Regions from separate parts of the Homo sapiens genome. Here region 1 is linked to region 2. The links come from fine-mapping of genetic effects on gene expression. A gene starts in region 2. The other region holds a variant in brackets. All regions are shown on one strand. Distances are between the middles of the regions.

The links.
Region 1: its variant is fine-mapped to the expression of NET1 in whole blood (INTERVAL, PIP 0.91).

The regions. Positions count from the first base shown.
Region 1 is chr10:5,560,463-5,572,551 of GRCh38, reverse strand. LOC105376381 (a long non-coding RNA gene) reads left to right here and starts at 5,671. Exons shown (of 2, transcript XR_001747274.2): 1 at 5,671-6,016; 2 at 7,247-9,391. RefSeq lists a silencer at 8,382-8,608 and an enhancer at 11,321-11,822. The variant T/G (reference allele first, on the strand shown) is at 5,774.
Region 2 is chr10:5,407,001-5,419,089 of GRCh38, reverse strand. It overlaps NET1 (neuroepithelial cell transforming 1), which reads right to left and starts at 6,533. Exons shown (of 12, transcript NM_001047160.3): 1 at 6,270-6,533. The coding sequence starts at 6,397. RefSeq lists a silencer at 6,192-6,621.

The DNA.
Region 1 (12,089 bases), 150 kb before region 2:
AGCTGCCCTGAGTGGTGCTGGCCACTGTGCCACCTGGCTGTCGCCCTCTAAGAAGGTCCTGCTGTCATGCCTTCCTCCTGACTGCTGACAAATATTCTCGGGGGAAGAAGCTGGTACGGAGCCTACTGGTTGTGCTCTGAGAAACCTCTTCCATGGCTAAAACCAAATTTCAGGATAGATAAGAGCAGCTCCTCAGAAGAGAAAGTTGGGAATCTCTGACCTGGATCAGGAGCAAACACATCCAAGCCCCTAATGGTGCATAAGCGCGGTGTTAAACGGCTCTGTTCCCGGCCAGCCCGGACCAAACCTACAGCCCAAAGGGGGAAGAAAACCCATCAACGAAATCACTTTTAAGATCCATGGTTGTCCCCCATTCGATAACCATGAATCGACTGTCCAGGCTGCATTTATCCAGCTGCAAGAATTCTAAAGAGAATGAGTTGCCCACTGATGCCCCTGGGCTGGGCCCAAGGTGTGGGGCCAGGTGTGAGGAGCTGTACCGGCCCCAGGAGGCGCCCATGTGGAGAATCTCTGTCCTTTGCACCTGGACCTGTGGGCTTTGAGAGCTCGGGCCCCAATTATGGCCAGAGCTAGGGTTGGTCTTCCTCTGCCCTGCAAATCCCAGATGTAGTAAGCATTCAGTACATTGTGTTAATAAATATCCATAAACTTGCATCAACTTATAAAAAGTATTGATAAATTTTGCTTCCATTCACCTTAGTGAGTAGATGGTCCATGGGATGAACCTTGATCCAAGAACCCTTCCGTCTGACTCCACCATCCAACGAGTTTTGGCTGCCAGCAAACTACCTCCTCTGGACCTTTGATCTCAGGTCCAGAGAACAAAGGCTGTGATCAGGAACGCAGGGTCCCCGAGGATAAGGACCTGGGCTCCTGTAGGGGCCTGGCGCTGGGCCTGGGAAGCTCTTTGTTTGAGTGTCCAAGCCTGGAGTGTGCGGGTCCCCACCCAGTAAGCACACCACTCACACTTGTAAACAAGGCATAAAACACACATTTGTGTAAATGCATGAACAAAAATGCAAGGAGGTTCAAACTCTGTCGCTATGAATAGATAGGACTTTGTTTACAAAGCAATGGGTTCTATGAACAGAAGGGACCTGCTGAACCTCTGAGCCCTGTCCCTCCATCTGTTTGCAGCTGTGAAGGTCAAAGTTCTCTGGGACACCATGATCTTGGGATCCAGTCCCTAGGGCTAGACTGTCCCAGGATGGAGAATATTATAATACTAGTTTCTAGATATCAACCACCGCCTCTGTTCCAGTGCATTAGGTACACGAATCCTTCTAATTACTCTGCGAGGTGGGTTTTGTAAATCCATTTAGCAGTTGAGAAAACTGGCACTCAGAGAGGTTGAGCAATTTTTCTGTGATCACACAGCTGGTAGAACCGAGATGCTTCATCACCTCTTTTTGAATCAGATGAGGGCAAAACAACCCCAAATCATTTAACTTGTTTACACTTAGAGTAGAAGTTGAAAAAAGGGGAAAAGAAGGGGTCATGGTTGGGTATCTGGTATCGATGATGGCAATTACGTTCATCTGGATACACAGGAACCAAACCCACACCCGGATAAAGGGAAGAGAGTTTTGCAGATGGTCATTGCAAATCAACAAAGCCAGCATCACTGAATGCTTCCTGTGTGCAGGTGCTGGCTGGGCCAGGGTCCCTCTTTTTGTTAACAACCAGTTGATGTGAACCCCTTGATGGGGACCTCTGTCTAATGAGAGAGATGGAAGAGCTCATCTTCTCACTGAAAGGAGCATTCAGTTCAACTTAATGAATGTTTACCACATACTTATTGTAGGCCAGGCTTGACGACAGGCACTGGGTGCCTGCAAAAGCAAGGCAGGGACCCTGCCTCCAGCTAGTGAGGAGGGGGACCGATGTCCAGGAAGAAGAATTAGCACTCAAAGCCCTGGACACTGGGCTTCCCTGACACCGCCCCACCGGCCTCCTTGGGCCAGATGAGACCTGTGATGCAGCTGGACGCAGTCCCCGAAGGCTTCACAGTCTGGTCCCCATCCAGCCCTGCGCCCTCCGCCCTCTGCCCCATCTGCATGTAACGGAAACAGATGGGCGAGCTGGCTTCTGAGTCTCGTGCCCCTGCATGCAGACCCGGGCCCTGGAGGAAGTGTGCCTGCCTGGCTTCAAAGCCATGGCCCACCCTTTCCTCCAGAGCCAGCCTGGCTGTGGCGCTGCCTGGGCTGGTGGATGCCAAGTCTGTGCCTGGACATCAAAACAATGCAGCCTCCCTCTTACCTCATCTCTCCGCCTTTGTGGCGGACAGCTCACGGCCCACTCTGTGCTGGAGAGGGCAAAGCTTCACCTCTGGCGCATGTGCCCCTCCTTCAAGTGTCTCCCCGTCGTGCCGGGTTCCCAGGCAGCTCTCCTCGCAGACCACGGATTTTCCACCAGGCCTTGCCTGAGATTCCACACCTGGGCTCATCGTCAGATTCACCTGGTGGGCTTCTCGGAAGTATCTGCTTCTTGTTTGGTCCCTCAAGAATATTTCCAAAGGTTTCGGGGGAGCCTAGAGATCTGTTTTTTTGAGAGTGTCCTGGGGGATCCTGGCAGCAAACCAGGCTGTAAGATGCATGTCCCAAGCCAGGCTCCCCAAATGCACATTTTGCTGGGCTGCCGTTCTCTTGTGAAATGTTTCCCAGAAACTTTGCCTGCAAAATCTTCCTTTCCTGGAGATTTGTGATCACAGTGACACACTGAGGGACTGATGAGCCTTTACAACAGATAGCTGTTGTCTAAAGGTAAACACACTCTTTTGAGAGAAGATAATTTTTTTTCCTGGCATCACAATGGTTTTTTCTAGGACTAGAGAGGAAAGTCTTACTCCAGATGTTTTCTTACTTCTTCCCTCTTTTCCATAGACACATACCTACCTTGTGCCCATTCTTTCCACGGGTGTCATGGAATCATAAGGGAAAAATGACTGGAGAAATGAATCCTGTGCCATTCATTAACTCATTAGTGAGTTCTCACCTCCCAGGAAAGATAGTTCTGTGATCCAGTTTAAATATTTACATTTCCATGATGCTTTTTAATCGAGGATCTTAACTTTAGAAATATCAGACTTTATGACAGATGGAGAAGGGATTTGGGGGGGACTATGAGCTTTTGAGAGCAAAATTTATTAATTCATTCAACCAGCCAACAACCAATCAACGAACCAACCACACACCAACCACACACTCATTCACTCACCCACCCACCAGCCAACCAACAAATCACCAACTGCCTATAAACCACTAACCATCCAAGCAATCAACCACCAACCAGCCAACCAAGCACTCACCTACCTACCAACAAACCAACCAACCACTCACCCACCTACCAACCAACCAACCAACCACTCACCCACCTACCAACCAACCAACTAATCAACCACCAACCAACCAATTAGCCAATCACCAACCAACCAGTCAAGCACCAACCAACCACCAACTAACCAACCAACCAAAAACCACTTACCCACCAACCAGTCAGCCAACAAACCACCCGCTAACCAACCAACTACTTACCCACCAATGAATCAACACTTTATATTAAATAAGGTGCCTTTAAACAGAAACATACATAAAACAAAGTTATATATGGATTGGTTGACAAAAATGCTATGGTCAGGGCTGGTAGGAACATACCCCATATTTCTCCTGGGAACAATGGTTCAGCATAATTGTCTCTTGGTATCCTTGGGGGATTTGTTCCAGGACCATCTGCGGATACGAGAATCCAAAGATATGCAAGGCCCTGATATAAAATGGCATAGTGTTTGCATATAATCTATGCACACCCTCCTGTATACTTTAAATCATTTCTAGATTACTTATAACACCTAATACAATGTAAATACCATGTAAATAGTTGTTATACTATATTGTTTAGGGAATAATGGCAAGAAGTAAAATAGACATGTTTAGTACAGATGTAACCATCATAGGCCTAATTACATTATCAATCCAGGGTTGGTTGAATCTGAGGTTTTGGAATCCATGGATTCGGAGAGCTGACTGTATTTGCTAATTCACTGTTCTTGGTGACTTTAGAGAACAGAAGTACTGAGAATGACAAGCATTGACTGTACTTTGTCTAATACTGAGAATGAAGGAGAATAAATGAGAATTCAGGAAGCATAAAACAAATTAGTTTACAAAGTCTGAGATAAGCTGGCATTTACTGATGATTTGCTTAGATACAGATCTCCCGGCCCTTAAACGTTAACTACAGTTCACAACCGTGTTGCCTGAGCCCCTAGTTGTTCTCCCTTCTAGCTTCTCTCCATAATTTGGGAGGAATTTGACACTTTTGTGGTCAAAAGCAAGAGAAACTGAGACCCTCTCTGAGGTTCACTGATAATTTTATTCTGTTTTTAAAAATAAGGCCAAGATATAATAAAGTGCACAAATCTATACAGTTTGATGGACTTTTGTGTATGTATACAAGCATGAAATCATCCCTTGAACCAAGGTTTAGGGCATTCCTCCTTAGATTGTTGTAGGTCTGAGAGACACACCTCCTTATACCTGGTGTATTCATCAGAAATGATCCCATGTGACCTTCGGAGAGATATCGCCTCCTATAGCCACAGCAAGGATGTGGTTTTTGTCTTCAGGCTCATTAAGAAGTCCATATATTGATAAAATATATAACATTCACATCATAAAACAAAACAAACCATGCAGATGGATAGGAAAAGAAGGGGTATTGCCTTAAACTATGGTGGAAGACAACATTGTTATTTATTAGTTAATGAGCTGATTCTTTGAAAATGATTAACTTCTAGAATATAGATGTTGAACAAGGTAGCATTCCTCCTTATCACTGAGCAAATATTTGTGGATGGCTATTTGGATGCTAATAAAATGTATTGAGATCAATACCTTCTTCATAATTTTTGGCTCGTAAACATTTTGTTCATATCCTGGAGACTCATGTGTGCAGCACGTGTTTTTCACTGGATGTAGCAAAGCTTGTGGGGTGGCTTTCCTTCATAATTGTCTTCTGTGGATTTATGGTCAGCTTTTGTTTCAACAAAATCAACTACCAAAGAAGCTTGTGACCATGAGTTTGTGAGAAATCTTCAAATTCATTTTTGTTATAGGTGGTATTTAGTAGGTTTTTGTTCGTTTGTTTGTTTGTTTGTTTGAGACGGGTCTGGCTGTGTCACCCAGGCTGGAGTAGAGTGGCGCATTCTAGGCCCACTGCAACCTCCGTCTCCCTGGTTCAAACAATTCTGCTTCAGCCTCCTGAGTAGCTGGGATTACAGGCACATGCCATCATACCCAGCTAATTTTTGCATTTTTAGTGGAGACAGGGTTTCACCACGTTGGCCAGGCTGGTCTCGAACTCCTGACCTCAGGTGATCCACCCATCTCGGCCTCCCAAAGTGCTGGGATTATGGTGTGAGCCACAGCACCCAGCCTTTTTCTGAGAAAAAAAGATAGATATGTAATAATCTTGCATGATAGGTTTTTTGTTCTGTAGGGTTCTCTGGCAGCCCCTGTTTTATCCATTGGACCAACTGTCTGTAAAGGCAGGTAACTTACTTACTTCTTTCTCCTGGAGAAGGACTTTTTGCCCTAACCGAAGCACACTAGTCACAGAGTTGTCCTAGTGACAAAGACACAAATTGAAGCTGCACTCAGTACTCATGGCTGATCAAGGGAAGTGAGCTCATCTCACCTTGACTCACAGCGATGACAGGTTCAAGCCCCTGCATGTGGGCCCGTTCCTCAGAGGA[T/G]GTTTGCAATGGGGGTGGGGGTTGCCATGGTGATGCCCAGTCAACAGAATGGAGAAAAGAGAAATTTGGTTTGAAATGAAATTTGAGTCTTGAGAGAGGGCTGATATGAAGGAGAATCAAACAAGCCACATGGGAGCATCTGAAGGCCTGGAGATAAGGGCCTGTTGCATGGCTGTGAAAATTTGGCCTTTAAAATAACTAGGCATGGGCCAGAAATCACAGCCGGCGGCTGCGACCACCCAAGTGAGTCAAAGGGAGCTGGATGAGAAGGTGGGGGGCACGCCTGGGTTAGGGTCCTTGACAGTTTTGTCCAGATTGGGTTTGAGTGTGGGGTGTCCTCATGGGACTCTGGTGAGTTGGGGGTGGGAAAGGCGGTTGACTCCTTGGGGGCTGGTCACCACTCAACAGCTGTTCTCCAGTGGCACTTTATGAAGCAATGTTAGCAATGGGAGCTCCCCTGCCAAGATGTGGGTGGTCGGTACCCAGTGGCTTTCAAAGCCAGCAACCCAGGGATCTCACAGAAGTCCATCAGCCTGAAGGCAGGCACGTGGGAGATGACTAAAACCAGGTGATGTAGGCAAGAGGTACCCTCAGAACGCCCTCGAGTTGCCCCATTGTTCTTTTCTGTGCTGCCTGTGTGTGCAGCCGCTGAGCTCCTTGTGTTTTCGGGAGGTGGAGTATGCACCCCTGTGGGCTCATCCATCCTCGCCCTCATCATCCTCCCTGGCACCGTGCAGACTCTGAGCTTCTGCCCGCCCCACCCAGGTGTCTCATCCCACCTGCCTCGGGGAGCCTGGCTGAACAGCAGGCACCACCCTGAGCCACCCCTTCCCAGCCAGAGCAGCTCCGGTCGGAGGCTTCCTCCCAACAGGCGGGCTTCTTAAGCCTCCTTAATCTGCACGGAGGAAATTCAGAAATCCAGTCATCCTGAAACCATCTTCCTTCGGGGCAGGACAGAACCCGTGTGTGTGGGTAGATGAGTGTGGATGGTGGGGGTGGGAGGCACATTTGTCATCGTGCTCAGCCCAGAACTTCCCAGATGTTCAGGCCAATCAGGGTGAACCCTTGAACTTCCCTGGGCCTCTGATGCCCGGCTAGTGCCTCAAAAAGCCTCATCCGCGGGTGCTTAAAAAAAAAGACTTGAGGCTTCTTTACAGACACAGCTCATTCTAGAAATCTTCCAGCCCCAACATCACCAAAGGCGAAGAGAAGAAGGAAACTCACTATTCTAGCAGTCCCTGGGCCAAGAGCCTGTTAAGCCATTTTACGAGCCGTCCCCTAAAACATGACAATTCTGCCAGGCAGGTGTGGCAGAAGCGGGGCTATGTCTTTCCCAGAACACTGCAGCTTCAGCATGTCCTGCTTGCAGCCGGGGCCCCTGGGAGTGATGCTGGAGGACACCACCTCCAGGCTGCCCCAGAAACCTCCTGCCCAATACTCACACCGTCTCTCTTCATCTGTTGACCACTTTAGGGCAGGAGATCCAGCGGGGGACTATGGAGCTCAGTGGAGCTGCGGCCTGGGAGAAGCCCACCCAAGAGAACCATGTAACTAGAAACCATCACATTCGGCTTCGTGTGAGGGAGAAGCAGGTGTTTCATTGCACGCAGTTACTGAGATCTGGGGTTGTTTGTTATTGCAGCAAGGACCCACCCTAACACACGAGGTGTTATATGCATTTTACAGATTGCCAAGATGGTACAGACAGCAGAAGTGGCAAAACAACACTTAAACTCAAACCTGCCCAACTTCAAAGTCCACGCCCTTCCCTGGGCTTCAGACTGCCGTCTTTGATGCTATCTTTCATTGAGATGTTGTTTGCATTAAATGGGGGATCTTGCGGCACACGGTGGACCTTGCCCAGCACCCACTCTTCCTAGGGCCAGCCTTACTCTGTGGGGTCAGCCTTTGACCGTCTGGGCCATGAAGGTGGCTGATGAGGCCCCTTCGACAGCCAAGTTGGGGCACAATCTCCTCCGGATGTTGTTATTCCTTCACAGTCTCATCGCAGGCGGGGAGGAAGTCAGAGGGCTGATTTAGAGGACAGAGATACAAACAGAGTGAGCAGAGGATGTTTGGCTGCAGTTGCTCCAGAGTTTCAAGGGAGAAAACACAAGCATTGCTGAGCGGCCATTAGGGGCTTGCACGCTCAGCTGGGCACATGTCCACACCGAGGCATCACGTGCGGTCTGAGCTGAGCTCTCATCTCTGGGTTTCAGGACTTTCAGCACAGTCCTGGCCCTTCACGTTTAGTCTGGGTGATCAGGGATGTAAACCAGCAATTGCAAGGTGGTGAAGCACCACCGTGGAAGGGCACCAGCCGGGCCCTGGGGTCACAGAAGTGCCCCAGGAAGTGTGGCCGTTAAGCCTGGTGAGAGGAGAGCGAGCCGGGAGGACGGTGAGAGACAGGCATGACGGGGCGGTGAGTGTGACTGCTGCTGAGCATGTCTGAGACGGCAGGCAGTCACCAAAGGCTTGTAAGCAGAGGCAACACCCTGACTTGTGGTTTGGAGAGATCATGGTGACTGCCGTGCAGGGACGGAATGGAGGCTGCTCCAGTGACTCTGGCCGTGGGCAGTGGTGGGCGGGTGAGGGGACAGAGGAAAGTGGATGGAGTTGCTGCCCCCACAACCCTGCTGAGAAAGTGCCCACGGGACCTGGCGGGGTGTGAGTCACACTTGGGCTGCTCTGCCTGGCTCTGCACCTATTTCGTGAGCTGGAAGGGACAGCCTGAGCCCCGTCCCTTGGATGGACATCAATGCAGGAGTAAGGGTCTGTCTCTGAAGCTCTCTGAGCAACGGAAGGGAAGGTGCCCACTGGGCTCAATGCAGAGATATTGGGGCTGATGTGGCAGGAGGGGTGGGTGTGCAGGCCCGGCGGGGAAGGAGACTTCCAAACAGACGGGCTGCCCCACGGGGAATCTGGCTGGGGCCAGTCATTCTCAGAGTCAAACCATCTTCATTCAACTCCGAGGCTGCCCCAGGCCAGTAGCGTCCTTCCTGAGAGCGCTTCCTGCGAGATTTATGAGGCAGGGGCCAGGCCTGGATCGTAGAAAGCTAGAGAATGCCTTGGCTGCCCAGGGAAGTCTGGAATTTCTTCCAAACCAAGCTTCCAGACGTCCCTCTGGACTCCTCTGTCTGAGAATGGGCACTTTAAAGGCCCAGGAGAGAACTCCCATGACACCGTTTTCCAACCTCCCATCTCCCCTCCCCGGCAGCTCCCCATTTCCGGCATCTCGGCTTGGCAGGACCCCTCCAGGACCTCACTCCTCTGAGACGCACTGCAGACCTCACAGGTGACAGCAGCGTTTTGCTGACTCAGAGGCAACTACCACGATGACCCTCCAGCCCGTGTCCAGACCTGGGGCAGCGACTTGGACAGGGGGCTGCAGAAGTGGGTCTGTGAGGGGGACCTGACGGGGGGCTGCAGAAGTGGGTCTGTGAGGCGGACCTGGGGGGGCAGCCCTGGGGTGGGCTCACTGGGGTTCACTCCACCTCGAAGACTTCAATTCCAGCTCTGGCTGGTTTTGTTGGATTAGGAACACACAGCCAGCCAAATCTTGGTTACTAGGGTGCCAGAGATCACGTGGAGAAATGAAATAAAGAGAGAACCCCCAAACGGTGGTGCTGCCATGCATTGGAGCCTCTCGCCCCAACAGCATTCTTACTTTATTTATTTATTTCTCATCCACATTTTGCTGGAAGATTTTGCGCATTCATAATGGCAAACAGAATATGGCGATAAGCTTCTGTGTACACTATCATCAACAGCTTTCAATTCCTAATTAACCTTATTTTATCAATATTCCCCATAATCCCCCATGCTGTTTCTTGGCAAATCTAGATGACCCACCATTCCAGCCTTAAAAATTTCAGTGTATAACTGACCAAAGCTTTTTATTAGAATTGCTAGGTAGGGAGGAAATTTAAGTTTCTATGACTATGCCTAGTAAAGTTTGAAAAGAAGACAACGGGGGAAATAGACATTGACAATTCATATTGAATAATTGCACAGAGACAGTTCCTTTGTTTGAGGCTAAACCGAGACAGAGCCTCAGATACCCTCACTCACTCCTCTCTGGCTGAGAGGGGAGGAATTTTCGTCTGGGTCAGGGAGCAATGAGGTGGGAGTTTTGTGCTTCGGTTCTGGGGTGGAGATGGAAGGTCATAGGTAGCAGTCCAGTAACTGGCCCCATAAATGGTTCTGTGAGGCAGAAGCAGCTGCTTTGTGGAGGACTTGTGAGACTCTGAGGGAGGAGGAGGGAGGGCTCACGCACACCAAGGCGGCCCCCATTGTTTGGGTTTTGGGAACCCTGGGAGACAGTGGCCGTGGTCTCTGGTTCCCCTCACTGGGGCTCCAGGAGCAGTGGCCATGTTCAGACCAGAACAAAGGGGTCAGGACCAAGAGGATAAAGAGATACAGGCATGGCTGCTGGTGGGACCTGGTGGTCTGACAACAGAACACCACAAGACATCCCTCAGGGACCGTGTGTCCTTTAGAGACACTTCCCTCCACAGGGATGTGGCCATCAGATGTCTGTCCAACCCGAGAGCTAGCTGTGCAATGGGCCCAGTGTGGAGGTATAGCCAGTGGGAGGGCTGGAGCCATGGTCGGGAGTGGAGGGGTTGCCTGCAGTGCCTGTGGACGGGAGGGGCACCAGGAGAGGAGGGTCTGGAGGGGGACACCAGGAGAGGGGGATCTGGGGGGAGATACCAGGAGAGGGGGATCTGGGGGTATACCAGGAGAGGAGGATGGCGGGGGACACCAGGAGAGGGGGACCTGGGTTTTACCAGGAGAGGGGTACCTGGGAGGATACCAGGAGAGTGCACCTGAGTGGGACACCAGGAGGTGGAGACCTGTAGGGGGAATGCCAGGCGAAGGGGACCTGGAGGGTAACACCAGGAGAGGAGGACGGGGGTGGGGGGACGCAAGGAGAGGGGCAGGGCTTGGAGTCACTCTGCCATCTTGGGCTCCTCAACTTTGGGATGCCAGCTCAGCCTTTCTGAGACTGGGTTTCCTCATCTGTAAAATAGAGGGATCTCCCCACAGAGCGTTTGTGAGGATTAAAGGATCAATTCCAGAAAAAGGCTCAAAGCAACGCCTGTCCCGCGCCCGGCCCACAGTGAAGCTGGGCGTCGTTACTCCTGCTGTGGTCACTGGTGGTGTGAGGACCGCAGCACAGGGCAGGAGGGACACGGCCCACAGGGCGTCCGGCCTCCTTGGCACCTGCTCCAGGGCCCTTCCCGTCACCTCCTGGCTCCTCCGTGCACGTCTTGCTCCAGCGCTGCGTGGCCGCCTGTCCCCATTGCTCCGGAGCCCTTTACATTCATTTCTCCTCACCTGGGACCCTCTTCCTCCCCTCTCTGCAGTGGAGGCTCCCAGCCTTGTCCAAGGGCTTCCTGGGAAGTCACTTTCCCTCCGAAGCATCTCATGCACCCTCCGGGCACCCTCACCCCTCCAGAGGTCCTGTGGCTCCCCAACTAGTGGGTGACACTGTCCTATTGCTGGACGCCATGGCTTCGAGGGCCTGTGTTACCCTTGGGCAGGGCCTTTAGTCCTGCAGGCTTGGACTCTGTCTTATTCATCCAGCCCCTGCATGCCTGGCATGGGCCAGGGCCTGGGCTGGGGGCTCAGGAGATGTAGTTGGATCTGAATGCTGGGTTGGAGAATTCTGTAAACACATAGGATGCAGGGTGAGTGGCCGTATGGGACATGAGCAAAGTCCTCTGGGAACCTGAGGCGCAAACTCTGAGTTCATTTTCACACCCTCCATGGTGCACACTGCCATATACCAGCAGGTGCCCCCAAACGCACAGCTGAATGACAGAGAGAAGTCAACCCGTGCAGGCTTCATCTGACTGTCTCCAGACGACTGGGTCCCTGGCCCTGGGCGAGCCCCTCCCGGAGGGTCTCCCTGCATTCTCTGCCAGGTCTGGGCCCAGGACCATCCTCTGGGGGATGGGTGTGTTGACTGCTGGCTGTAGAGTGTGGCCTGTATCTGCCCCTCTCTGGGTCCCACCCTTCTGGGACTGTCTCAGATTTGAGGAAAGGAAGATGGATGTTGTCTGGTCCGGTCCGTGCCTCACCGTAAGGTGTCGTGTTGTGCTTTTGGCCACTGAAGATTTTCCCTGGTCTCTGGAGCTCCAGCCAAGCTCTCTGAGCGCCAATATCATGTTTCCGTTTTCCCGCTGTTCTCAACAAGCAGCTATGGATTGACTGGTTGATCGCAAGGCTGTTTTAAACAAAATAGAATATATTTCTTTCAAGAAGTCCAAAGCTCTCAGAAGAGCATTTCCAACTTATTTCCAATAATCTC
Region 2 (12,089 bases):
ACAATTACAAACATATGTGCATATAAAAACAGCACAATCTCAATAAATGTAAAAGGATAGAAATAATACATAATACAAAGTGTATTTTCCAGCTGCAATGTAATGAAATTAGAAAAAATTTGTGAAAGTCACAATTATGTGGAAATTAAACAATTCATTCCTAAATAACTAATGGCTCAAAGAAGTCAAAAAGAAATCAGAATTTGAGATTAATGATAGTGAAGACACAATATATCAAAATTTATGAGATGCAGCTAAAGCAATGCTCAGAGGGAAATTTATAGCTGTATCCCTATATTAAGAAAAAGATCTCAAATCAGTAACTTAATCTATAATCATGACACTGGAAACAAAAAGGGCCAACTAAACCTAAAGCATGCAGACTAATCTGAGCAGATTACTCAGATTACTAAGCAGGAAGAAGGAAACAATAAGGATTAAAGTGAAAATAAAACAAAGAATAGAAGAACAAAGAAAATTAATGAAGCTAAAATCACATTCTTTGGAAAGATCAAGATTGACAAGACTGTAGCTAGATTGACCATCATCATAAAAAGAAAGAAGACACAAATTACAAGAATCAGAAATAAAAGAGGGGACATTACTATTGACATTACATGAAAAGGATTATAAAGAAATACTATGAACAAGGAAGGGTACACCAACAAATTAGATAACTTTGATGAAACAAATTCCTAAAGAGATACAACCTACTGAAACTGACTTAATAAGAAACAAACTATCAGAAGACACCTACAACAAGAGATGAGATTGAATTAATAATAATAATAAACTATCCACAGAGAAAAGTCTAGGCCTAGGTGGCTTTACACTGAATTCTACCAAACATTGAAAGAATACCAATTCTTCACAAACTCTTTCAAAAAAAACAAAACAGTAGGGAATACTTCTTAACTGATTTTATGAGGCCAGTATTATCCCAATACCAAAACCAGACAAGCATAGTACAAGATAATAAAACTACAGATCAATATCTTATGAATATATATACAAAAATATTCAACAAAATATTAACAAAATGGATCCAACAATATATTTAAAAAAGCTATACACAATGACCAAGCAGGACTTATACCAGGAAGGCAAAGTTGGTTTAACATCCCAAAAAATCAATTAATGTAACACATCAGTAATAACAACAACCACATGATCATTTCAATAGACAAAAGAAAAAAAACCCTAAAACCTTTCATGATAAAAACCACTCAAAAACTAGTAACAGAATGGAACTTCCTCAACCTGATAAAGGACATCTACAAAGCTTACAACTAACATCATACTTAATGGTGAAAGATTGTATGCTTTCCCCTTAAGATCAGAAACAAGACAAGAATTTCCCGTCTCTCCACTTCTGTTCAGCGTTGTACAGGAGGCCCTACCCAGGGCAATTAGGAAAGAGAAAAAAGTAAAGGGCATCCAGAGATTGGAAAAAGAAGTAAAACTATTTTTATTTGCTGATGACATGACCCTGTACACAGAAAGTCCTAAAGAAACCACTAAAAAACTATTAGAACTAATGAGCTCAGCAAGGTAGCAGGATCCAAGATCGATATACAAAAATCAATTGTATGTATTCCTATACAATTGAAATTATTAAACTGAAAATAAAGTGATACAAAGCGGGGCAGGGAAGTGCTGCGTAGAGGAGAGCGTGGTCCCTTGCTAGGGCTCCATCCCCAGGCCTGGGCCCACGGACCTAAGTGAGGATAGGCATTTCTGTTTTCCTACCCAAATGTTGCATTTCCCAAGACCACCCTGGCTCACCACACCCCCATCCTGTGCCTATAAAAGCACGCCCCCACCTGTGCCTATAAAAACCCCCCGAGACCCTAGCAGGCAGACACACAGGTGGCTGGATGTCAAGAGGAACACATCGACGTGGGAGTACACCAGCACGCTGGCAGGCCAGCTGGCAGGCCATCGATTCGCAGAATGACGCAGAGCTTGGCCAGGGAGGTTGGAGGAGAATCGGGCAACCTGACACCAGGGCAAAACCATTTCCCTTCTGGCTCCCCCATCTGCTGAGAGCTACTTCCACTCTATAAAAGCTTGCAATCATTATCCAAGCCAACGTGTCATCTGATTGTTCCAGTACATCAAGGCAAGAACCCTGGGATACAGAAGGCCCCCTGTCCTTGAAATAAGGCAGGGGTCTAACTGAGCTGATGAATACAAGCCGCCTACGGATGGCTAAACTAAGAGTACCCTGTAACACAAGCCCACTGAGGCTTCAGCTGTAAACATTCACCCATAGACATGGCTATGGGGTTGGAGCCCCACAGCCTGCCTATCTATATGTTCCCCTAGAGGTTTGAACAGCAGGGCACCGAAGAAGCGAGCACACCTCCAGTGCACGCCCTGCGAGGGGGAAAAGGGAACTTTTCCCATTTCAAAAGAAATGAATCCATTTACAACTGCATCAAAAAGAACAAAATACTTAGGAATAAATTTAGCAAAACATGCAGAACTATACTCTGAAAACTACAAAACACTGTTGAAAATAATTAAAGATCTAAATAATTGGAAAAACATCCCTTGTCCATGGATCAGACTACTTAACTCTCTGTAGAGGGCAATACTCCTGAAAATGATCTACAAGATTTAATGCAATCTCTATCAGAATCCCTGTGGACTCCTTTGTAAAAATCGATTAAGCTGATTCTAAAATTCACATAGAATTGCAGGAGACCCAGGATAGCCACAACAATCTTGGGAAAAAAAGAACAAAGTAGGAGGACTCACATATCCCAATTTCAAAACTTACTATACAAAGCAACGGTAATCAAAACACCATGGTAATGGCATAGGGCTATTACATATAGATCAAGAGAATAAAAGTCAAAGTCTAAAAATAAACTCTCATGCTTAAGGTCAACTGATTTTTGACAAGGGTGCTAAGACTACTCAGTGGGAGAAAGAACAGTCTTCAAAAAATGGTGCTGGGGTACCTGGATAGACACATGAAAAAGAATTAAGTTGGACCGTCATCTCACATTATATACAAAAACTAACTCAAAATGGATTAAAGACCCAAATATAAAAGCTAAAATGATAAAATTCTCAGAAGAAAGCACTGGGGAAAGGATTCATAACAATGGATTTAGCAGTGATTTCTTGGATGTGACACCAAAACACAGGCAACAAAAGCAAAAATAGACAAGTAGGACTACAAACTAAAACATTTTTGTGCTTCGAAGCACATCATGAAAGTGAAAAGACAAACCACAGAATAAGAGAAAATATTTGCAAATAATCTATCTGATAAGGGACTTGTATCCAGAATAAAGAACTCTTAACAACTCAATAAAAAAGAAATTTAAAAATGAACAGGGCCAGGTGCGGTGGCTCACGCCTGTAATCCCAGCACTTTGGGAGGCCGAGGCAGGCAAATCACAAGGTCAGGAGTTCAAGACCAGCCTAGCCAACATGGTGAAACCCTGTCTTTACTAAAAATACAAAAAATTAGCCACACGTGGTGACACATGCCTGTAGTTCCAGCTACTTGGTAGGCTGAGGCAGGAGAATCACTTGAACCCGGGAGGCGGAGGTTGCAGTGAGCCGAGATCATGCCACTGTACTCCAGCCCCGGTGACAGACTGAGACTCCGTCTCAAAAGAAAAAAAAAAAAGAGCAAAGGATGGCCCACCAAAAATGGCCACACACATTACATAAATCCATTCATATGCAATGTCCAGAACAGAGAAATTCCTACAGACCGACAGATTAGGTTTTAGGGCAGAAGGGGTAGGAGAGGAACAATAGCTAAAGGGTACAAATGCTCTTTTTGAGGTGATGAAAATGTTCTAAGTAGTACAATTTAAGTGGGTAAATTGTACTGTACGTATTTGTCTTTCAAATTAGTTTATACTGAGTTTTGCCTGCAGAACGTTTTTCAATAGTCACATAATCATACACACAAATCTTTTTCCTTATGATTTCTGAATCTGATACAGTGCTTAGTTGCTTCTTGCCTCACAATTAATACTATCTTGTAATATTTTACGTATTCTTGTAGATGATCTTACATCTTTTCTGGAAAAGGAATATGTTATTTAATTCTCCATTTTCTCTCCATGGTTCTTCTAACTGTGTCTCACTCTCCTCATGCTGCCTGTGTTACTACGCTTTTCTCACAATGTATCATTTCCTACCTCACACAAAAAATAGAGGCCTGGTGGGAAAGTCCTCAAATTCCTGCTCACAACACACCCCATTCTTCAAAACTATATATCATCCATAGCTTCTTGTTAGGCTAAATCCTCTACCTTGAATTTGGATTCTGTCCTTTTCTGCCTTCTTGGATCCTTGTTCAACCATTTTTCTCCTCTACTGTCTGTTCAACCTCTCCCTCTATTTGTTAACTCAGCACAGCACATCAAGGGAATTTATTCTTTCTTAAGAGTCTATCCCACAAAATTGTGTTATTTCTCTCTATTCTTTCTTGTCTTCCTGTTGCAGTGAAACTTCTCTTCACCAATCCCATTGCCAGCTATCAGATTCGAACAATCATTTTTTCATTTAGACTACTGCAGACTGATTTCCTACCAATCCATCAGCTAAACTTGGAAATTTTAATTTGGTATACACAGCTGGGTCCACAAATCTCCTGAAATGTTTATGTATATGTGCACATTTTTGGGGAATAGTTTTCATAAAATATGAAGAGTGAGATGACTCCAAAATGTTGCTTATTTTTCTCATGGAAGGCAAACTGATCTTTTAAAATGCAAATATGTCATGCCATTGGCTCATTTAAAGTCTTTCAGTATTTCCCCATTACCATGAAGATAAAACCCAAACTCTGTCAAGGCATACAAGGTCTCTTCATGATGTGGCGCTTACCTCTTTAGCATCATCTCTCATGACTACCTCCTCCTTCTCCCCATATTGGTTTCCTCTCCTCTATACAAATATCACTGTTAATATAGTAATAAAATAGAATATATACCCAGAACTCATCAGACTCATTTGCTTCAGGGCCTTTCTACATGCTTCTCTGCCTGAAATCATCCATTTACATCTGCTCTCTAAACTGGTCCTTAAAGACTCAGGGATTACAATAGGAAATCATTTCCTATTCTCTCCAGTCAGGATTAAGTGTTCCTTTTAATCTACGGCATTCTGTGTATATCACTATAATAACTTTTATCACATATTATAATAATTATTAACCTACTTATCTTTCTTCCCCACTAGATTATAAATCTTAAATAGTAACAAGAGTATTTTTCCATTTCCATATTCCTAGTGTTGGCACTCACATTATTTTCTGAACAAATCGCACATTCTCTTCTCAACCTGTTGCAAAACACTCTAAGTTCGATATTGTAACCATTCTTGGAAACCATCTAAGATCAATACTCTCTTCTCATTACCAAATTTAATTTTCATTCCTCATCTAGCTTAATCCTCATCTTATTTTACTTAATCCTCATTTTATTTGACCTATCAATAACATCTGACATAGCTCGCCACGTCCTCTTCTTGAAATTCTTTCTTCATTTGGCCTCCTGGATACTGTTCTCACTTGGTTCCCTTCCTCCTAATTCACTAGCTATCCCCTGAGCTTCGCTTTGTGAAATTTCACTGAGCCAAACACGAGTCATACACTCTCATTTCAATGTATACTTCCACAAAAAGTAAAAAGAAAAAACACGAAAATGGTTGTGATGAACTCTCTAATAGGCATCTCATAACATATCCCGAAGTCAACTTATCCCTTAGTCTTTTCTTTCTCAGGACATGGAAGCCCATTCTCGTGGTGCTCACCATGACAGTTTCGGTCTGAGCAAAGGCATTTGGGAACGCCAGCCTACAGCCAGTTGGGTGTGCAGAACAAAACCATTGTGGTTTTTCCTAAGTCTCCCCTGAGAAACAGTCAGGAGGCGAGGAGACTCAATAAACCCGCCCCTTTGCCACAGGCAGGGAAAATCGCAGTTTGGGGTCTCAGGACCGACCTCGGTCCAAGGCCAGGCACACTGTCACTCCAGCCTGTGCCACCCTCACTTCCAGCGGCCCCCGTCCCCCCCCCCAACCCCGCGGTCACCTCCCCCACCCCCCACTCACCTCCCAGCGGCCCTCGCCTCCCCCTGGCCCTCACCAACACCCCCACTCGCCGCCCCCCACATCCAACTCCCGGCCAGCCCTCCCCTCCCCCCGGCCCTTGCCTCTCCAACACTCACCTCCCGTTCGGCCCTCCGCTCCCCTACACTCACCTCCCGTTCGGCCCTCCCCTCCCCCACACTCACCTCCCGTCCAGCTCCGACCCGGAGGTGTCGGCCGAAGGCCCCGTCGCTCCCTCCGTGCTGAGCCCAGAGGCCCGGCGGCTTCGCCTCCGCGGTCGAGGCTGCTTCTGAGCCGCCAGCTCGGGCTCCATGGCACGGAGGAGGGGGTGGGGCGGTGGCCGGGTGCCCGGGAGACCGGCAGGGACGGGCACGATGCCCGCCAGCCTCTGCCAGGCAGAAAGCGCCTGTCAGCGGACTGCAGCCGCCACCGCCGTCATCCGGGGATTTGAAAATGGCGGCTGAGCAGCGATCAGCCAATCAGTGAGCGCGCAGCGGTTCCTAGGAGACGTGGAGTCCCGCCCCTCCACCGCTCCCGGGATCTACTTGCCTAGGAAAGAACCTAGGAAAATTTGCCCTTAACTCCTGAGCGCATCCCTGAGTCCCTAAGGCCCGGTACCTCCTTCATTGTTCATTAGGACTTTCACTACAGGCCAAGGCAAATGGACTGGAAGCATTTTAATTCACCAGATCTTTCTTAGCATTTGAGGAGAAGAGAGGTCCAAACTAATGACCTGTAAACAAGGCATGTTTATTGGCCATATTCACACTGAATTATTGTGCACGTGGCCAATATGAGATATATTTCCAATTACCAAAGGTTATGCAAGTGTGTTCCCGGGACTGTCTCTAGGGAACCAGCAAAATCTAATTATGAGCCCTTATGTCTTCCAATAAGCATGACACAGTCTCTCCCTAGCAAAACAGAATGAAGTGACTTCATCCTTTGCTTGTAAAAGTCAGCAAAAGACATAATATAAAATAAAAGACCGCTTCAAGTAAAAAAAAAATTGTTAAACAAATTACACTTTCTTTGATTTTAAATATTGCTTTATATGTGTCAAAGTCTTTAAAAATAGCTTCTCCTGACCGGGCGCTGTGGCTCACGCCTGTAATCCCAGCACTTTGGGAGGCTGAGGCAGGCGGATCACGAGATCAGGAGATCAAGACCATCCTGGCCAACATGGTGAAACCCTGTCGCTACTAAAATACAAAACTTAGCTGGGCAGAGTGGCGCATGCCTGTAATCCCAGCTACTCAGGAGGCTGAGGCAGGAGAATTAGTTGAACCAGAGAGTCGGAGCTTGAATTGAGCCAAGACCGTGCCACTGCACTCCAGCCCAGTGACAGAGCGAGACTCCGTCTCCAAAAAAAAAAAAACAAAAAAACACTTCTCTTTTGCCAGTATATTTCCACTTATGGAAATTTATCCTAAAAAATAAAATTATATAAACATGAAGCTATTAATGACATTGTTTATAATAGAAACATTTAAAACAACCTAAATAAACAATGATTTATAGCTCATCCACTGAGAAGAATATTTTCAGCCAACAAAAATGAAGTGTGAAGTATGTAATAGTATACTGGTAATTTGAAATAAAAACATGAAGTATAGAGGTATATTCAGTATATTCAAAGTTATGAATTACAAGAGATTATACAAAGAAAAAAGATAATGTATTAAAATGTATTAAATGTATTAAAAAGTCAATGTATTAAAATGTCTCTAGGTAGACTTTAGGTATTCAAAATTTTTATTTTTATTTTTTGCATTTAATTTTTTTAAAAATAAGGACATATTGAATTTGCAGTACCTTTATAACATGAGGGAAAAATGTTTTTGTTTTAAAAAGAGTAAGAAATTAGGGAGTAACATTGAGATGTGAAGCCAGCTAGACTTCCTGGGTAGAGTGGGGACTTGGAGAACTTTTCTGTCTGGCAAGAGGATTGTAAAACACACCAATCAGTGCTCTGTAGCTAGCAAGAGGATTGTAAAATGCACCAATCAGTGCTCTGTAAAAAGCACCAATCAGCAGGACCCTAAAAGTAGCCAATCACAGGGAGGATTGAAAAAAGGGCACTCTGATAGGACAAAAATGGAACATGGGAGGGCACATATAAGGGAATAAAACCTGGCCACCCCAGCCAGCAGGGCAACCCACTGGGGTCCCCTTCCACACTGTGGAAGCTTTAGTTCTTTCACTCTTTACAATAAATCTTGCTGCTGCTCACTCTTTAGGTCTGTGCCACCTTTAAGAGCTGTAACACTCACCATGAAGGTCCATGGCTTCATTCTTGAAGTCAGCGAGACCATGAACCCACCGGAAGGAACCAGCTCTGAACATAAGTTGACCTTGGTCAAGAACCACTTCTGTTCTACCTTCCCCATCCCTCCCCAAAAATTAAAGAAGAAAGTACTGCTTTGTAGCAGTTAGAGTGTAAGAATACAGAAATGTTCTTAATATTTGGGGAGTTGGTCTCCACCAAGACAGAGCTTCAGAGGATGCAGATGTTTAGATTATGAACAAAAATAAACCTGTAAGAGCAATTCTTCAAGTCAGGTCCCAAGTAGGTCACAACTACTCTGTGTCCAGAAAACTCACACCCCTTTGGGATTTTCACAATTTACCCGAATTGACCAATCAGGGCTCACCTGATGTAACCGATCAGAACTCATCTGCTTTATCCAATCAGGGTTCAGCTGTATTACCCAATCTGAACTGAGCAAGTCTGAATCTTTCCTTTGCATAAACACATCTGATTGGAAACCTGGACAAGAACTTTTTCTATAGAAGCCAAACCCTCCCCTTTATTCTCTGGAATCACCTTTCTTTTACTCCGAAGGCTGTGTCTCCCTGGTTTGCAAACTGTTCACTAGAATAAAGTCTCCTTTCTCCAAACTTCCTTTTCAGAGAACTTTTGTTCACAAGATAGGACCATGTGAATCGCTGACGCTTGGTCTTTTTACCCACAGAAACAGCCGTTTCATATTAATAGTTTCAACATACTTCGGTGAGATCCTCAGAATTCAGGGTCTGTCCTCAGCTTTGCAGGTCCTGAAACTGGTTTTGATTGTGTCATCAGAGGTGGTCAGTCCTTTGGTAACTTGTAATAACTACTCACAAAATGATAGATACTGCAGGATGTCAATGTGGGGATTCCAGTGGTGGGGGTGGGCACTTCTTTCCAGTGACCTGAATACTATTGTTTTATGCAGAGCAACTGTTTCCAATTTTCATTCACTTGAGAACTTATGATTTTGTTCAATTATTCACAAGAATTTATTAAATTCCTGCTATAATATGCCAGGATCTGTGCTAGACATTAGGGAAATAAGGAATAGAAGACAAATTTTCATCAGAAAATGGCTGGGTACCATAGAAGAAGAGCAAAGAAAAGTGACCGCTCTGAGGGTTGGTCATTGAAGACCTGGGAAAGGCTGGTGACATCTCTTGATCTTACAAGAGATCAACTTTCTGGTGTCTGAATGCCATTGTCCCCATGTTCTATGTCTTACACTGTATAGAACAGTCCCAAAACCATGACAAATGTTCTCTGAATCCTCTCTCTTTCAGTTCCCCACAAATCATCCTTCTCCCTTAAAATATTCACCGGGATAGGGTTTGAGGAAATTGTTTTGATTTCAGCTTTCATATATATAAAATCAGACTCTAGAACTCCCTCTCTGAGAAGATATTCCTACTAACTTGACTAGAGCAAAGTGTAACCCAAACTTTTTCAACCATGGATTTGCAAAACAAATATTCTTTTGGGGAACTTCCTCAAAGATTATTTCCAAAACCTTCAGCCCTATGTGATGACACCAATCATTTTGCAAGTTGATATTAAATAAATTCAACAATCAATAAATGAATGTAAATTATTATGTAAATCAATAATTTAAAAACCTATTTTCTTTCATTATCTAAGTAAATCAAACTATTTTTGCAAAACTGCTTACCAAGTTTTATATATATATATATATATATATGTATATATTAGAGTACAAAGTGTTCATCAAAACACTTTATTAATTTCCAAATTATTTGATGATTTTGATGTGATATTTTGTTTGCCATTGCTATCACTAGCTAAATGATTCCCCTTTGGTCTGTAGGCTCCCATAGAAAAATGTAGCAAATTTGCAAACAATGACCTACCATTAGAAAACTAGTAGTCTTAATAACTAGAGAATTGCCCTTTGCATCAACGTTTTTCTTTTTTGTCTGAATCTTCTCATAGCTTCTCATGAACTAACAGCAATTACATTCAGGAGAATGAATGTCTGTATGTGTGCATATACATATAATTTATATATAGAATGTTATAATAAAGTCTGAAATTTTTAAAAATATATTTACTATATCTACTATTGATTAATTTACAAAACTGTTTATTAGACTGTAATTTTTAATTGGGTCAAACTTAATTGTTCCTGCCAAATGAAAGGGAGTGTAGTCCAACAGCTAAGTATGTGGACTGCATTGATTGTCATTCTGACAAGCAGAAGTGTACTTATAGGCACAATAGGGCAGAATATTTGAAATCAGGTTTGTCATCCCTTAAAATCTATCACTGTGTGTGTATGTGTGATGTGGGGGGAGGTTGTTTCATTTTTTGCCTCAATCAGTCAATCAATCAATCAATCATCTATGAATCATTTGTTTACCATATTGGTTTACTCTTAGGTATTCCAATGAGGAAAATGGAAAACTCCAAAATCTAGCTGTTGAGCTTAGAGAACAATAAAATTTGAGATGAAATATGTGTGGCCAGAGAAGGTGCTATTAATCCAAAGTAGACTGTAATTCATTTTTCTTAACGCTTAGACTATCTTCCTAAAGACATTGCAGGTCTAAAAGACTGATTTATATTAGTAGTAGGAGAGGAGAACAGAGGAGGAAGGAGAAAGGGGTTTCAGTGCAATGGTAGGGGCCAGAGAGAATGGCAAAGGACAGTGATCTGGCTGTGGTTGTGAGGCTGCCAACAGAGAATTACCAAAGAGAACTTCAGAAATGTCAGAATGTCAATCAGAATTATTGCTCAGAGTTGAATAATTTTTTTTTTTTGTAACAAATTTTCATGCTTAGAAGGTTTTGTTTGTCTCATTACTTGGCCAGTGAATTGACTGGCTCACAATGAAAAATACTTAAGAAAGGAACTTTTTTTTTTTTTTGAGATGGAGTTTTGCTCTTGTTGCCCAGGCTGGAGTGCAATGGCGTGACCTTGGTTCACTGTAACCTCCGCCTCCAGGGTTCAAGTGATTCTCCTGCTTCAGCCTCCAGAGTAGCTGGTATTACAGGTGCCTGCCACCACACCCGGCTAATTTTTTGTATTTTTAGTAGAGATGGGGTTTCACCACATTGGCCAGGCTGGTCTTGAACTCCTGACCTCAGGTGATCTGCCCACCTTGGCCTCCCAAAGTGCTGCGATTACAGGCATGAGCCACTGTGCCTGGCCAAGAAAGGAACTTTGAACAAGGACATCGTAACTATAAATACCACACTTTTATCACTCTGCCATTTTTTCACCCTCAGAACCTAAGGGTGGCCACCAAGTATGTCAGAGTCAGTATTGTGTGTGTGATTTATTTTAAGGAATAAGTTAGTGTGATTGTGGGGCTGTAAAGTCTGGAATCAGTAGGGCAGGCTGGCAGACTGGCAGGCTGGAAACTCCTGAGTAACAGCTAAAGCTGAAACTAAAGGTGCCATCCTTAGGAGAAATTTCTTCCTCAGAGAAATCTCCATTTTACTCTTATGGTCTTTCAACTGATTGGATGAGGCCCACTCACATTATTGAGGATGATGTCCTTTACTTAAAGTCAAAGTTTACTGGAGATGTTCACCACACCTCCACAATGCCTGCACAGCAATACCCAGACTAGTGTTAGATTGGATAACTGGGTGCCACAGCCTAGCCAAGTTGACACAAAAACTATCACCCCAGAAGGCCTCTTCAGACGTGAAATTCCAATTATTATCACTTGAGGAAACTTTTTTCTTTA